2 linked regions of the Homo sapiens genome follow. The protein of the gene in region 2 interacts with the protein of the main gene of each other region in a pairwise test. Each region holds a gene or a part of one and is shown on either strand. Other genes may lie near its edges.

Evidence for each region.
Region 1: the proteins of CATIP (region 2) and CEP72 interact in binary tests that used the Homo sapiens proteins (3 or more experiments, as listed by UniProt).

What each region holds. Positions count from the first base shown.
Region 1 is NC_000005.10:629,248-636,512, forward strand, and holds part of CEP72 (centrosomal protein of 72 kDa), read left to right. Parts: intron 1-4,521; coding exon 4,522-4,700; intron 4,701-6,124; coding exon 6,125-6,337; intron 6,338-7,265. UniProt on the Homo sapiens protein: Involved in the recruitment of key centrosomal proteins to the centrosome.
Region 2 is NC_000002.12:218,359,612-218,366,876, reverse strand, and holds part of CATIP (ciliogenesis-associated TTC17-interacting protein), read right to left. Parts: intron 6,305-7,265; coding exon 6,218-6,304; intron 4,143-6,217; coding exon 3,975-4,142; intron 2,250-3,974; coding exon 2,125-2,249; intron 213-2,124; exon of another isoform or gene 79-212; intron 1-78. UniProt on the Homo sapiens protein: Plays a role in primary ciliogenesis by modulating actin polymerization.

The sequences.
Region 1 (7,265 bases), on a different chromosome or scaffold from region 2:
GAAAACATTCTCCCTGAATGTGAAAGTGAACATTTGGAACACTTAACTTTCTTGATCACGTGTATCTCCTTGTGGATGTGCTAGGAAAAGTGTAATCACATAGCAGAACAGAATCTTCCAGAACTTTAATTTTTGAACCAATCCTAGTGGGGTTCTGTCCAGTGCCGGGATTTGGACCAGTCCTGGTGGGATTCTGTCCAGTGCCGGGATTTGACCCAGTCCTGGTGGGGTTCTGTCCAGTGCCGGGATTTGGACCAGTCCTGGTGGGGTTCTGTCCAGTGCCGGGATTTGGACCAGTCCTGGTGGGGTTCTGTCCAGTGCCGGGATTTGGCCCAGTCCTGGTGGGGTTCTGTCCAGTGCCGGGATTTGGCCCAGTCCTGGTGGGGTTCTGTCCAGTGCCGGGATTTGACCCAGTCCTGGTGGGGTTCTGTCCAGTGCCGGGATTTGGCCCAGTCCTGGTGGGGTTCTGTCCAGTGCCGGGATTTGACTCAGTCCTGGTGGGGTTCTGTCCAGTGCCGGGATTTGGCCCAGTCCTGGTGGGGTTCTGTCCAGTGCCGGGATTTGGCCCAGTCCTGGTGGGGTTCTGTCCAGCGCCGGGATTTGGCCCAGTCCTGGTGGGGTTCTGTCCAGCGCCGGGATTTGGCCCAGTCCTGGTGGGGTTCTGTCCAGTGTCGGGATTTGACCCAGTCCTGGTGGGGTGCTGTCCAGTGCCGGGATTTAGACCAGTCCTGGTGGGGTTCTGTCCAGTGCTGGGATTTGACCCAGTCCTGGTGGGGTTCTGTCCAGTGTCGGGATTTGACCCAGTCCTGGTGGGGTGCTGTCCAGTGCCGGGATTTAGACCAGTCCTGGTGGGGTTCTGTCCAGTGCTGGGATTTGACCCAGTCCTGGTGGGGTTCTGTCCAGTGCCGGGATTTGGCCCAGTCCTGGTGGGGTTCTGTCCAGCGCCGGGATTTGGCCCAGTCCTGGTGGGGTTCTGTCCAGCGCCGGGATTTGGCCCAGTCCTGGTGGGGTTCTGTCCAGCGCCGGGATTTGGCCCAGTCCTGGTGGGGTTCTGTCCAGTGCCGGGATTTGACCCAGTCCTGGTGGGGTTCTGTCCAGTGCCGGGATTTGGCCCAGTCCTGGTGGGGTTCTGTCCAGTGCCGGGATTTGACCCAAGTCCTGGTGGGGTTCTGTCCAGTGCCGGGATTTGACCCAGTCCTGGTGGGGTTCTGTCCAGTGCCGGGATTTGGCCCAGTCCTGGTGGGGTTCTGTCCAGTGCCGGGATTTGACCCAGTCCTGGTGGGGTTCTGTCCAGTGCCGGGATTTGGCCCAGTCCTGGTGGGGTTCTGTCCAGCGCCGGGATTTGGCCCAGTCCTGGTGGGGTTCTGTCCAGCGCCGGGATTTGGCCCAGTCCTGGTGGGGTTCTGTCCAGTGCCGGGATTTGACCCAGTCCTGGTGGGGTTCTGTCCAGTGCCGGGATTTGGCCCAGTCCTGGTGGGGTTCTGTCCAGTGCCGGGATTTAGACCAGTCCTGGTGGGGTTCTGTCCAGTGCCGGGATTTGACCCAGTCCTGGTGGGGTTCTATCCAGTGCCGGGATTTGGCCCAGTCCTGGTGGGGTTCTGTCCAGTGCCGGGATTTGACCCAGTCCTGGTGGGGTTCTGTCCAGTGCCGGGATTTAGACCAGTCCTGGTGGGGTTCTGTCCAGTGCCGGGATTTGGCCCAGTCCTGGTGGGGTTCTGTCCAGTGCCGGGATTTGACCCAGTCCTGGTGGGGTTCTGTCCAGTGCTGGATTTGACCCAGTCCTGGTGGGGTTCTGTCCAGCGCCGGGATTTGGCCCAGTCCTGGTGGGGTTCTGTCCAGCGCCGGGATTTGGCCCAGTCCTGGTGGGGTTCTGTCCAGCGCCGGGATTTGGCCCAGTCCTGGTGGGGTTCTGTCCAGTGCCGGGATTTGACCCAGTCCTGGTGGGGTTCTGTCCAGTGCCGGGATTTGGCCCAGTCCTGGTGGGGTTCTGTCCAGTGCCGGGATTTAGACCAGTCCTGGTGGGGTTCTGTCCAGTGCCGGGATTTGACCCAGTCCTGGTGGGGTTCTGTCCAGTGCCGGGATTTGGCCCAGTCCTGGTGGGGTTCTATCCAGTGCCGGGATTTGACCCAGTCCTGGTGGGGTTCTGTCCAGCGCCGGGATTTGGCCCAGTCCTGGTGGGGTTCTGTCCAGCGCCGGGATTTGGACCAGTCCTGGTGGGGTTCTGTCCAGCGCCGGGATTTGGACCAGTCCTGGTGGGGTTCTGTCCAGCGCCGGGATTTGGACCAGTCCTGGTGGGGTTCTGTCCAGTGCCGGGATTTGGACCAGTTCTGGTGGGGTTCTGTCCAGTGCCGGGATTTGGACCAGTCCTGGTGGGGTTCTGTCCAGTGCCGGGATTTGGCCCAGTCCTGGTGGGGTTCTGTCCAGTGCCGGGATTTAGACCAGTCCTGGTGGGGTTCTGTCCAGTGCTGGATTTGACCCAGTCCTGGTGGGGTGCTGTCCAGTGCCGGGATTTAGACCAGTCCTGGTGGGGTTCTGTCCAGTGCCGGGATTTGGCCCAGTCCTGGTGGGGTTCTGTCCAGTGCCGGGATTTAGACCAGTCCTGGTGGGGTTCTGTCCAGTGCTGGATTTGACCCAGTCCTGGTGGGGTTCTGTCCAGTGCCGGGATTTGGCCCAGTCCTGGTGGGGTTCTGTCCAGCGCCGGGATTTGGCCCAGTCCTGGTGGGGTTCTGTCCAGCGCCGGGATTTGGCCCAGTCCTGGTGGGGTTCTGTCCAGTGCTGGGATTTGACCCAGTCCTAGTGGGGTTCTGTCCAGTGCCGGGATTTGGCCCAGTCCTGGTGGGGTTCTGTCCAGTGCCGGGATTTAGACCAGTCCTGGTGGGGTTCTGTCCAGCGCCGGGATTTGGCCCAGTCCTGGTGGGGTTCTGTCCAGCGCCGGGATTTGGACCAGTCCTGGTGGGGTTCTGTCCAGTGTCGGGATTTGACCCAGTCCTGGTGGGGTGCTGTCCAGTGCCGGGATTTAGACCAGTCCTGGTGGGGTTCTGTCCAGTGCTGGGATTTGACCCAGTCCTGGTGGGGTTCTGTCCAGTGTCGGGATTTGACCCAGTCCTGGTGGGGTGCTGTCCAGTGCCGGGATTTAGACCAGTCCTGGTGGGGTTCTGTCCAGTGCTGGGATTTGACCCAGTCCTGGTGGGGTTCTGTCCAGTGCCGGGATTTGGCCCAGTCCTGGTGGGGTTCTGTCCAGCGCCGGGATTTGGCCCAGTCCTGGTGGGGTTCTGTCCAGCGCCGGGATTTGGCCCAGTCCTGGTGGGGTTCTGTCCAGTGCCGGGATTTGACCCAGTCCTGGTGGGGTTCTGTCCAGTGCCGGGATTTGGCCCAGTCCTGGTGGGGTTCTGTCCAGTGCCGGGATTTAGACCAGTCCTGGTGGGGTTCTGTCCAGTGCCGGGATTTGACCCAGTCCTGGTGGGGTTCTATCCAGTGCCGGGATTTGGCCCAGTCCTGGTGGGGTTCTATCCAGTGCCGGGATTTGACCCAGTCCTGGTGGGGTTCTGTCCAGCGCCGGGATTTGGCCCAGTCCTGGTGGGGTTCTGTCCAGCGCCGGGATTTGGACCAGTCCTGGTGGGGTTCTGTCCAGTGCCGGGATTTGGACCAGTTCTGGTGGGGTTCTGTCCAGTGCCGGGATTTGGACCAGTTCTGGTGGGGTTCTGTCCAGTGCCGGGATTTAGACCAGTCCTGGTGGGGTTCTGTCCAGTGCCGGGATTTGGCCCAGTCCTGGTGGGGTTCTGTCCAGTGCCGGGATTTAGACCAGTCCTGGTGGGGTTCTGTCCAGTGCCGGGATTTGACCCAGTCCTGGTGGGGTGCTGTCCAGTGCCGGGATTTAGACCAGTCCTGGTGGGGTTCTGTCCAGTGCCGGGATTTGGCCCAGTCCTGGTGGGGTTCTGTCCAGTGCCGGGATTTAGACCAGTCCTGGTGGGGTTCTGTCCAGTGCTGGATTTGACCCAGTCCTGGTGGGGTGCTGTCCAGTTCCGGGATTTAGACCAGTCCTGGTGGGGTTCTGTTCAGTGCCGGGATTTGGCCCAGTCCTGGTGGGGTTCTGTCCAGTGCCAGGATTTAGTCCCGTCCTGGTGGGGTTCTGTCCAGTGCTGGATTTGACCCAGTCCTGGTGGGGTGCTGTCCAGTGCCGGGATTTAGACCAGTCCTGGTGGGGTTCTGTTCAGTGCCGGGGTTTGGCCCAGTCCTGGTGGGGTTCTGTCCAGTGCTGGGATTTGGCCCAGTCCTGGTGGGGTTCTGTCCAGTGCCGGGATGCTGTCATGTTATCACGTAACCTGGCTGTTGCTCACCGATTGTCCTTGGTGAGTCACTCTTTAGCATCACTGCAGTGGAAGCAACAGGACCCGGCTGCCCCACGTTTGCAGCACGCTGCTTCTCTCAGAGACCGTGCAGGAATTTTCCTTCTCCTGGTCTGCGTGGGCCGGAGCATATGGCTGGCTTGAGTGATGCTGATGAGTTTGCTTTTCCTTACAGACCACACCACCCCAGAGCCAAGTGCACCGAGGCCTTGGCCAAGCAGAGCCTGGTCATGGATGCGGATGACGAGGCAGTCCTGAACCTCATTGCAGAGTGCGAGTGGGACCTCGGCAGGCCTCCCGGGAGCACGAGCTTCAGCCAGAAGGGGCGTGAGGCCGACTCTCGTGGTTCCCAAGGTGCGCTGCTCATCTGCCAGGAGGCCAGTGGGTCCGCTGGCTCTGGGATATATATAGTCGTTACTGGGCTTGGAGTCCACAGTTGCTCTTTTTGTGGAACTTACCTTGAAGGATAGGATCTTCATGATGTGTCTTTGTGTGCTTTCGAATGCCAGCCATTTGGACTACAGAGTTATAAATGAGAAAGTTAACATATTTGAGTATAGTCATACTGCATGATGGTTTAAATTGTATCCTTCTGAGATCACAGGAAAAGGCAAACTGTCTAAAACAGACAAGAAGCCTAGTGTCCTGTGGCAAGTGGGGCTGACATCTGCGGCAGCTGCAGGGGGGCATAGTCACCGAACTTGCAGGAAACCCTGAGCTCAGGCCGCCACGTGCAGACCTGTAGATCCCAGCAAGGGTGTCTCGGAGACTCCGTTGCCCGGTGGCACTGCCCTCCACTGGGATGTGCTGATGGGCTTTAGCTTCATTTATTCCACCTCCGCTGTGAGTTTCTGAGAACTTTTCGTGGAAACAACAGGTGGAGACCTGAGTTTGGGCTGAAATCTTAGGTTCATCTGTGCAAAGATGTCTGCCCTGTGGCAGCGGTGCTCGAGCCATGTCCTTGCCGGCACTGGGAGCTGAGTCCTTTAATCCTAGCTGCTCTGTCAGGGGGTTGTGGTCTGTGTTTATGGCTTTAATTTGCATCCGCTGCTGTTGAGATACTGGCCGTGCCTGTCTCTTCTTTTCTCTCCAGGTCTGCCCACCTTTGTTCTGGGGTTGCTTCTCTTAGTATTGAGTCCTAAGAGATCTTGGTGGTTTTGACACAGGCCCTTTCTCAGGCACAAGGGCTGCCCATTTCCTCCCTTCTGTGGCTGGCCTTTTCATTATCTGAACAGTGCTTTGAAGAGCACAAGTTTTAATTTCATTACAGTCCAGTTTATGAAGGGCACAGTTTATTTTGTTTTTTGTTTTGTTTATTTTGAGATGGAGTTTTGCTCTGCCGCCCAGGCTGGAGTGCAGTGGCGCAATCTTGGCTTGCTGCAGCCTTTGCCTCCCGGGTTCAAGTGATTCTCCTGCCTCAGCCTCCCAAGTAGCTGGGACTACAGGCGCCCACCACCACACCCAGCTAATTTTGTATTGAGACTGTCTGGACTCTCTCTTCTGTTTTGTGCATCATTTTGTCTGACTTTGCTCCACTTCATGCGGCTGGATTCTTGCAGCCTTGTCCTGAGTCTCGCAGGCGAGTGGCGCCAGTTCCCAGTTCCAAGCTCTCTTGCTGTTAGAAGTCACTGTGGATTCATTTCAGTGTCACCCAGCACGTGATTAACCCCTCGGTCTAACAGATACCATACACTATTCAGAAGCTTAAAATGTAATTTTTGATGGAATAAAACTTTTACAATGTTTTATGAAATATTTTATTTACAATATTTTAATAGAATCCAGACATCTGTTGAGCCCGCAGTTGGTACAGTACCAGTGTGGGGACTCTGGGAAGCAGGGCCGTGAGACGAGGAGGAGCAGCTGCAGAGGGTGCTGTCTGGAGAAGATGCCTTGGAGCCAGCTCTGTGGAGAGCTTCCGCCACTGTACGGAGCGGAGCCAGAGGCCTCCCGTGCCCCCAGGCCACACACGTACTTCACCCCACACCCAGGTACTTACGCGTGTCTTAGTCTGTTTTCTGTTGCTGTAACAGAAAACCACAGACTGAGTAATTTATAAAGAACAGAAGCTTATGTGGCTCATGGTTCTGGAGGCTGGGAAGTCCAAGAGCACGGTGCCGGCACCTGGTGCTGGTCCTCCCATGGCACAGGCAGAAGCATGGTGCAGGCAGAAGCAAGCTCAAGACAGAGAAATGGAGCTAGACTCATCCTTTATCGGGAACCCAGCCCTGCGCTACAGCATTCCTGCCTCCCTGCGGGCTGGCCCTGTGACCTGTTCCAGACTCATCCTTTATCAGGAACCCAGCCCTGCGATACAGCATTCCCGCCTCCCTGAGGGTTGGCCCTGTGACCTGTTCCAGACTCATCCTTTATCAGGAACCCAGCCCTGTGCTACAGCATTCCTGCCTCCCTGAGGGCTGGCCCTGTGACCTGTTCACCTCTTAAAGGCCCTCCGCTTAATACTGTTAGAGTGGCAATAAGTTTCCAGCTTAGGAACTTTGGGGGGTTCCTTCGAACTACAGCAACATGAAATCCCTGTCAACTTTTACTCCCTTCAGTTCCTTTTTAAGTAGTTAAATATTTTTCACATCGTTTGCTTTTACTATGAAATTTCTCCTGTTCTCTGTGTATTTATTTGTTTGTGGAACTCTCCAAAATGTCTTTGGAAAGAATGCAGCACATTGAAATTTATAATCCATTCATGGTTTAGATTCATGGTTGGTAAATAAGTGCTTTTTCTCTGCACGTGTGTGTGTGCACACCCTCCCTCACCCTCTCACTAATGCACACACACTTTTAAGTGTATGGGCCCAGGTTATGGCAATAGCTACATTTTGAAAATCAAAGGCGAGAAAAGTTAACCAAGAGTGTCACGTGATACCATGTGATGGCCACCTATGTGGCATAAGTATCAGAAAA
Region 2 (7,265 bases):
GCCCGAATCAGATAGGATTAGTGCCCTTATGAGAAAAGGGTGATGCCAGAGAGCTTTCTCTTCACTCATGCACGGAAGAAAGGCCATGTGAGGACACATTGAGAAGGCACTTGTCTGCAAGCTAGGAAGACAGCCCTCACCAGAAACCAACCCTGATGGCACCATGATCTTGGACTTCCTGCCTTCCAGCAAATATATTTCTCTTGAAGCCACCCAGCCTGTGGTGTTTTGTTATGGCAGCCTAAGCAGACTCCTACATGACAGTGCCCCTTGAGAGACCTGTCCCGGGCCTCTTTACTTCTGCCTCCCTCTCTTGTTTATTAAGTTCCTGGGTGGTGTTCATTTCTGGATCTCCAAATAACGCACAGGGCTTGGCAAGTATTAGGCCCCCTGTTTAAAAAAAACAAAAAGGATCTTTAGAGGTACAGCACTCGAAAATCATGGAGCCTCTTGGCCAGGCACGGTGGCTCACGCCTGTAATCCTAGCACTTTGGGAGGCTGAGATGGGTGGATCACTTGAGGTCAGGAGTTTGAGACCAGCCTGGCCAACATAGTGAAACGCCGTCTCTACTAAAAATACAAAAAACTAGCCAGACGTGGTGGTGGGCGCCTGTAATCCCAGCTATTTTGGTGGCTGTGGCATGAGAATCACTTGAACCTGGGAGGTGGAGGTTGTAGTGAGCCAAGATTGCATCCCTGTACTCCAGTCTGGGTAACAGAGCGAGACTGTCTCAAAAAGAGAAAGAGGCCTGTCGCAGTGGCTCACACTTGTAGTGGCTCACGCCTGTTATCCCAGCACTTTAGGAGGCCAAGATGGGCAGATCACTTCAGGTCAGGTGTTTGAGACCAGCCTGGCCAACATGGTGAAAGCCTGTTTCTACTAAAAATACAAAAATTAGCCAGGCGTGGTGGCAGGCACCTGTAGTCCCGGCTACTTGGGAGGCTGAAGCAAGGGAATCACTTGAACCTGGGAGGCGGAGGTTGCAGTTAGCCAAGATTATGCCACACATTCCAGTCTAGGTGACAGAGCGAGACTCTGTCAAGAAAGAGACAGAGAGAGAGAAAGAGAGAAAGAGGAAGGAAGGAAGGAGAAAGAAAGAAAAGAAAAATTATGGAATCTCCTGCTATGCGGCATTCAAAATAAAAAGGTTGGCCTGGAGCTGTGGTGCATACCTGTAGTCCCAGCTACTAGGAAGGCTGAAGCAGGTGGATTGCTTGAGCCCAGGAGTTGGAGGCTGCAGTGGGCTATGATCGCACCAAAACCGAAAACATACTAAGTTATGAGATAAAGCCAACAATGTTTTGATTACCTTTTCCCCAGTGTAGTGATTATGTGAATATCTATTCTGAAATTTTAAGAAATAAACTCGACTGGAGTCTGTCTCAAAAAAACAAAACAAAACAAAAAAACAGAAAGAAACTCTTTCTTCCACCTGAATTTTCTTTTTCTTTCTTTTTTTTTTTTGAGACGGAGTCTTGCTGTCACCCAGGCTGGAGTGCAGTGGCGCGATCTCGGCTCACTGCAAGCTCTGCCTCCTGGGTTCACGCCATCCTCCTGCCTCAGCCTCCAGAGTAGCTGGGACTACAGGCGCCCACGACCACACTTGGCTAATTTTTTGTATTTTTAGTAGAGATGGGGTTTCACCGTGTCAGCCAGGATGGTCTCAATTTCCTGACCTCATGATCCGCCCGCCTCAGCCTCCCAAAGTGCTGGGATTACAGGTGTGAGCCACCACGCCCAGCCCTGAATTTTCTTATGATTTGGAGCCAGTGCTTTGCTGGAGACTGCACGGCAGCCTGCCACAGGCAATTCTTCCAGCACAGTGATTTCATCAAGTGTGCAGTCATTCAGACCTTGGTGTTTTTCAGTATTATCCCTTACACAGTGGTGGCTGCACTAGCTACACCCCAGGCCTGTGGTGTGCAGTGAGAAGGTTTGGGAGGCACTGTGAGGGTTAAGAGGACGAGCAAATAAATGAAGAAAGAGTGAATGATATGGATAAAGCGGAGGGACACTCCTATCTCAATGCCAGTTCTTCCTGGTGCTATCCCCAGAAGCAGCCGGTCTCCTTGAGCACCTACAAGCTCAGCACCACCCCTCTGGGCCCACCATCAGCAGCTCACCCATCGGAGAGCAGGTAGTACTGGCAGGACATGGGGATGCCCTCCTCCGCGTGGACAGTCTGCTCCACGATGAAGACTTCAGCCTGCTGATGGTCTACCTGGATGGTCTGGAAGCCCAGGTTTTGCTGGCAACAGCCAAAATTGGGGGGTGGGAGGTAAGGTGGATGCCCGCCAAGGGCTCCCCATCATCTTACCTTAGCCTTTTCTCCATCTCATAACAACCTCAAGACATTTAATATTGCATCTCCAAACCTCCAAGCTGAGTTGGCGACCCCTCATAGGGAGCTAGCTCCAGGTTGCCCTTGCCCTGACCCCTCCCATGTCATCTCGCTGACCAGGTGCTTCTAGTTGGCAAATTCTGTTACAGGGATGAGAAGCGGTATGCGGGGGGGTGTGGGAGCGGAGAGGTAGGATGAGCTACTAGGGCCAGTGGGTGGAGGTAAAGTGAGGCTCAGAGGTGTGAGACCAGACAGATTTGTGGCCACCTCAGACCTGTGCTGTTGCTGGCAGGCTGTCCCTGTTGTGATTAAAACTTAAACCCCTGTTGTAGCTGCAGCTATGGAGAAAAAAGTGCTAATGTTAAACACATGTTTCAAAGAACACGGAGGGGAATGGATTGTGCTTGTTCATGTCAAATGCATTGCTGCTTGGTGTGTTTTGATAGACAAGCCTGGAATGTAATTTACAAAGATGGTCAAAGAAACACAAATCAGCCCCCAAAGTGTCTCACTGGAAATTGTGTGTTCAGTGGCATGGCTTTAAAATCACTGATTGCAGGAAGTCCTAGGCATGCTGATTATGAAATTTTAGTTAAAAACAAAAAACAAAACAAAAACGGAACACCCTTTGGGGTTAAGAAATAATAAAGGAATATTTCAGTAAAGTTGGACATGTTACACTTCCTAAAGTTAAAAAATGATTTATTTTTATTTATTTATTTTTTTGAGACAGAGTCTCCCTCTGTTGCCCAGGCTGGAGTGCAGTTGTGCGATCTCAGCTCACTGCAACCTCCGCCTCCTGGGTTCAAGTGATGCTTCTCCTGCCTCAGCCTCCCGAGTAGCTGGGATTACAGGCACTTGCCACCACACGCAGCTAATAATTTTTGTATTTGTAGTAGAGACAGGGTTTCACCATGTTGGCCAGGCTGATCTTGACCTCCTAACTTCAAGTGATCTGCCCACCTTGGCCTCCCAAAGTGCTGGGATTACAGGCATGAATCACTGCGCCTGGCCAAAATGACGTTTTTTTTTTTTTGTTTTTTTTTTTTGAGACAGAGTCTCGCTCTGTCACCCAGGCGGGAGTGCAGTGGCGCGATCTCGGCTCACTGCAAGCTCTGCCTCCCGGGTTCACGCCATTCTCCTGCCTCAGCGTCCTGAGTAGCTGGGACTACAGGCGCCTGCCACCACGCCCCGCTGATTTTTTTTTTTTGTATTTTTAGTAGAGGCGGGGTTTCACCATGTTAGCCAGGATGGTCTAGATCTCCTGACCTTGTGATCGGCCCGCCTTGGCCTCCCAAAGTGCTGGGATTACAGGCGTGAGCCACCACACCTGGCCCAAAATGATGTATTTTTTAAATCAGCCCTGCACTATATTTATTTTTCCTGGACTGACTTCTGTGCGGAAGGGTTGCTTCTCTGAACTGTTCCCACTTCTCAGTCACTCTCAATTCATCTGCCCCACACTCCCAGACAAACATGCTTTCCTGCCCTTGAAAGCCCCATTCCCACCTGTGCTGTTTTCTCCCCACCTGCCTCCCTTTTCTACTCCACAGCTGTTCCCCATCTCAGTGCTTTTCACGCCTTTTCTAGTTCGCTCCCAAGCCAAGTCCCCTGCCCAAGGGGACCCCTTACATAGGTCAAATAGCAGAGTTTGCCCTCGGTGTCCAAGGTCAGGAAGCGGGCATTGCTGGGCACCATCCGCCGCCAGGCCATCACCCTGAGCAGCACCAGGTTGGCAGCCTCTGAGATGAAGCCCTTGATTGAGCTCCAGGGGAAAGAAGTCACTCCAGTCTTCACTTCCTGTTCAGAACTGATCTGGGTCAGGGTCCTGGAACCAGGAAGGGGCAGGGGACAGGAGGGTGGGCAAGCCAGGTGTTGGGCATACGGTTTTGTTTTTTTTTGAGACAGAGTTTCGCTTTTTGTCACCCAGGCTGGAGTGCAATGGCGTGGTCTCAGCTCACTGCAACCTCCGCCTCCTTGGTTCAAGCGATCTCCTGCCTCAGCCTTTCAAGTAGCAGGGATTACAGGCTACCATGCCTGGCTAAATTTTGTAATTTTAGTAGAGACCGGATTTCACCATGTTGGCCAGGCTAGTCTTGAACTCCTGACCTGAGGTGATAGGCCCCCTCTGCCTCCCAAAGTGTTGGGATTACAGGCGTGAGCCTTTTTTTTTTTTTTTTTTGAGACAGGGTCTTGCTCTGTTGCCCAGACTGGAGTGCAGTGGTGCGATCTCAGCTCACTGCAACCTCCAGCTCCCAGGTTCAAGCGACTTTCCTGCCTCAGCCTCCTGAGTAGCTGGGATTACAGGCTCACGACACTACGCCCAGCTAATTTTTGTATTTTTATTAGAGGGGATTTCACCATATTGGCCAGGCTGGTCTCCACTCCTGACCTCAAGTGATCCGCCCGCCTTGGCCTCCCAAAGTGCTGAAATTACAGGCGTGAGTCACCACACGCCTGGCCTTCAGCCGGTCATATGGTTTTTAATGAATGAATCCTTGTCTTTTTTTTTTTTCCTTTTTCTGGAGAACGGGGTCTCGCTATATTGCCCAGGCAAGTCTCGAACTCCTAGGCTCAAGCTATCCTCCTGCCTCTTGCTTCTGAGAGCTGGGATTACAGGCGTGAGCCACCGCGCCCAGCCTAATGAATGAATCGTTAGTCTGGACTCCTGGCTTCATCTAATCTGGTCCCCGCTCAGAGTTCTGAAGAGGACATTGTGAAAGAAAAATAAATCTTGGGACCCCAAATCACTAAGCCAAAGGGAAGTCAAGCTGGGAACTGCCTCAGGCAAAGCTGCCTCCCATTTTATTCCTAAACAAGGTAGCTACTAAGAGAAAAAAAAGCTATATAACTCCCTCACTATTTGCCCACAAGGAAATTCCTTGTGGACAAAGGACAGACAGAACTCAAAGTCATCCCTCTGCTCACGTGAGATAAATGCATATCTGATGGCTTTCTCTGCTCTATTGTTTCACTAAGCCAGAGTAAGGCATAAGTGACTACTTTTCTAACCCCCATAGCATGTAAATTGTGTATTCAGTGAAAGGCTAATCGGAAACTTAAAAGCATGTCTCTTATCTACCTATGACTTGGAAGCCCCCTCCCTGCCTCGAGTTGTCCTGCCTTTTCCAATGAACCAATGTACATCTTTTTTTTTTTTTGAGACGGAGTCTTGCTCTGTCGCCCAGGCTGGAGTGCAGTGGCGTGATCTCAGCTTAGTGCAAGCTCCACTTCCCGGGTTCACGCCGTTCTCCTGCCTCACCCTCCCGAGTAGCTGGGACTACAGGCGCCTGCCACCACGCCTGGCTAATTTTTTGTATTTTTACGTCTGGTGAACCAGTGTACATCTTACACGTGTTGATTGATGTTTCGTGTCTCCTTAAAATGTATAAAACCAAGCTGTAGGCTGGGCGTGGTGGCTCACGCCTGTAATCCCAGCACTTTGGGAGGCTGAGGCGGGCGGATCACCTGAGGTCGGGAGTTTGAGACCAGCCTGGCCAACAGGGATGAAACTCCCTCTCTACTAAAAATACAGAATTAGCCGGGCGTGGTGGTGCATGCCCATAATCCCAGCTACTCGGGAGGCTGAGGCAGGAGAATCACTTGAACCCGGGAGGTGGCGGTTGCAGTGAGCCGAGATCACGTCATTGCACTCCAGCCTCTGCAACAAATGTGAAACTCTGTCTCAAAAAAAAAAAAAAAAAACAAGCTGTGCCCCAACCACTTTGGGCCCATTTCCTCAGGACCTCCTGAGGCTGTGTCATGTGCGCGTCCTTAACCTTGGCAAAATAAACTCTCTAAATTGATCTGGACCTGTCTCAGATATTCTGGGTTCACAGTGTGTAGTGCAACTCCCATCTGGCTCTCATCCTTACCTCACCCTCCTTGATACTTCTGGTCACAGCCAGCTGATCATCCTGCTTCAGCAAACTCATCTTCCGTTCCATGGGGAGGATGAGGAACTGAGGGCCAGAGCATGCGGGGGAGGATCAGGGACTCCCTGGGTCCCCCAGAGGTCACCTGACCCTTCTCCATTAATGAGAAAACTGAGGTTTAAAGATTGTGACTTAAAAAAAAAGCAGCCGGGCCGGGCACAGTGGCTCACGCCTGTAATCCTAGCACTGTGGGAGGCCGAGGTGGGCGGATCACGAGGTCAGGAGATTGAGACCACCCTGGCTAACACGGTGAAACCCCGTCTCTACTAAAAATACAAAAATTAGCTGGGTGTGGTGGCACATGCCTGTAGTCTCAGCTACTTGGGAGGCTGAGGCAGAAGAATTGCTTGAACCCGGAGGCGGAGGTTGCAGTGAGCCGAGATCGCACCACTACACTCCAGCCTGGGCAACAGGCTGTTTTTGAGACTCCATCTCAAAAACAAACAAACAAACAAACAAAAAACCAAGCAGCAGGGCCAGGTGTTGTGGCTCATGCCTGTAATCCCAGCACTTTGGGAGGCCCAGGCGGGCAGATCACTTGAGGTCAGGAGTTCAAGACCAGCCTGGCCAACATGGCAAAACCCCATCTCTATTAAAGATACAAAAATTAACCAGGTGTGGTGGTGCATGTCTGTAATTCCCAGCTACTTGGGAGGCTGAGACAGGAGAATTGCTTGAACCCGGAAGGTGAAGGTTGCAGTGAGCTAGATTGCACCACTGCATTCCAGCCTGGGTGATAAGAGCAAGACTCTGTCTCAAAAATAATAATAATAATAAAATAAAAAAAAAAAAGCAGCAGCAACAAAAACCAAAAAACACCTTTCATACACAGTGAAGCTGAAGAATAGCAGTCGTGTTATGATGCAATATAAAGTTCAAAAACAGTGCACTTCAGAACACTGGTTTTAAAAGATGGGGGTGGGCCAGGTGCAGGGACAGCAGGTTGCCACTGATAAGTTCTCCTGATACCCAAACTCTGAACCCAGCC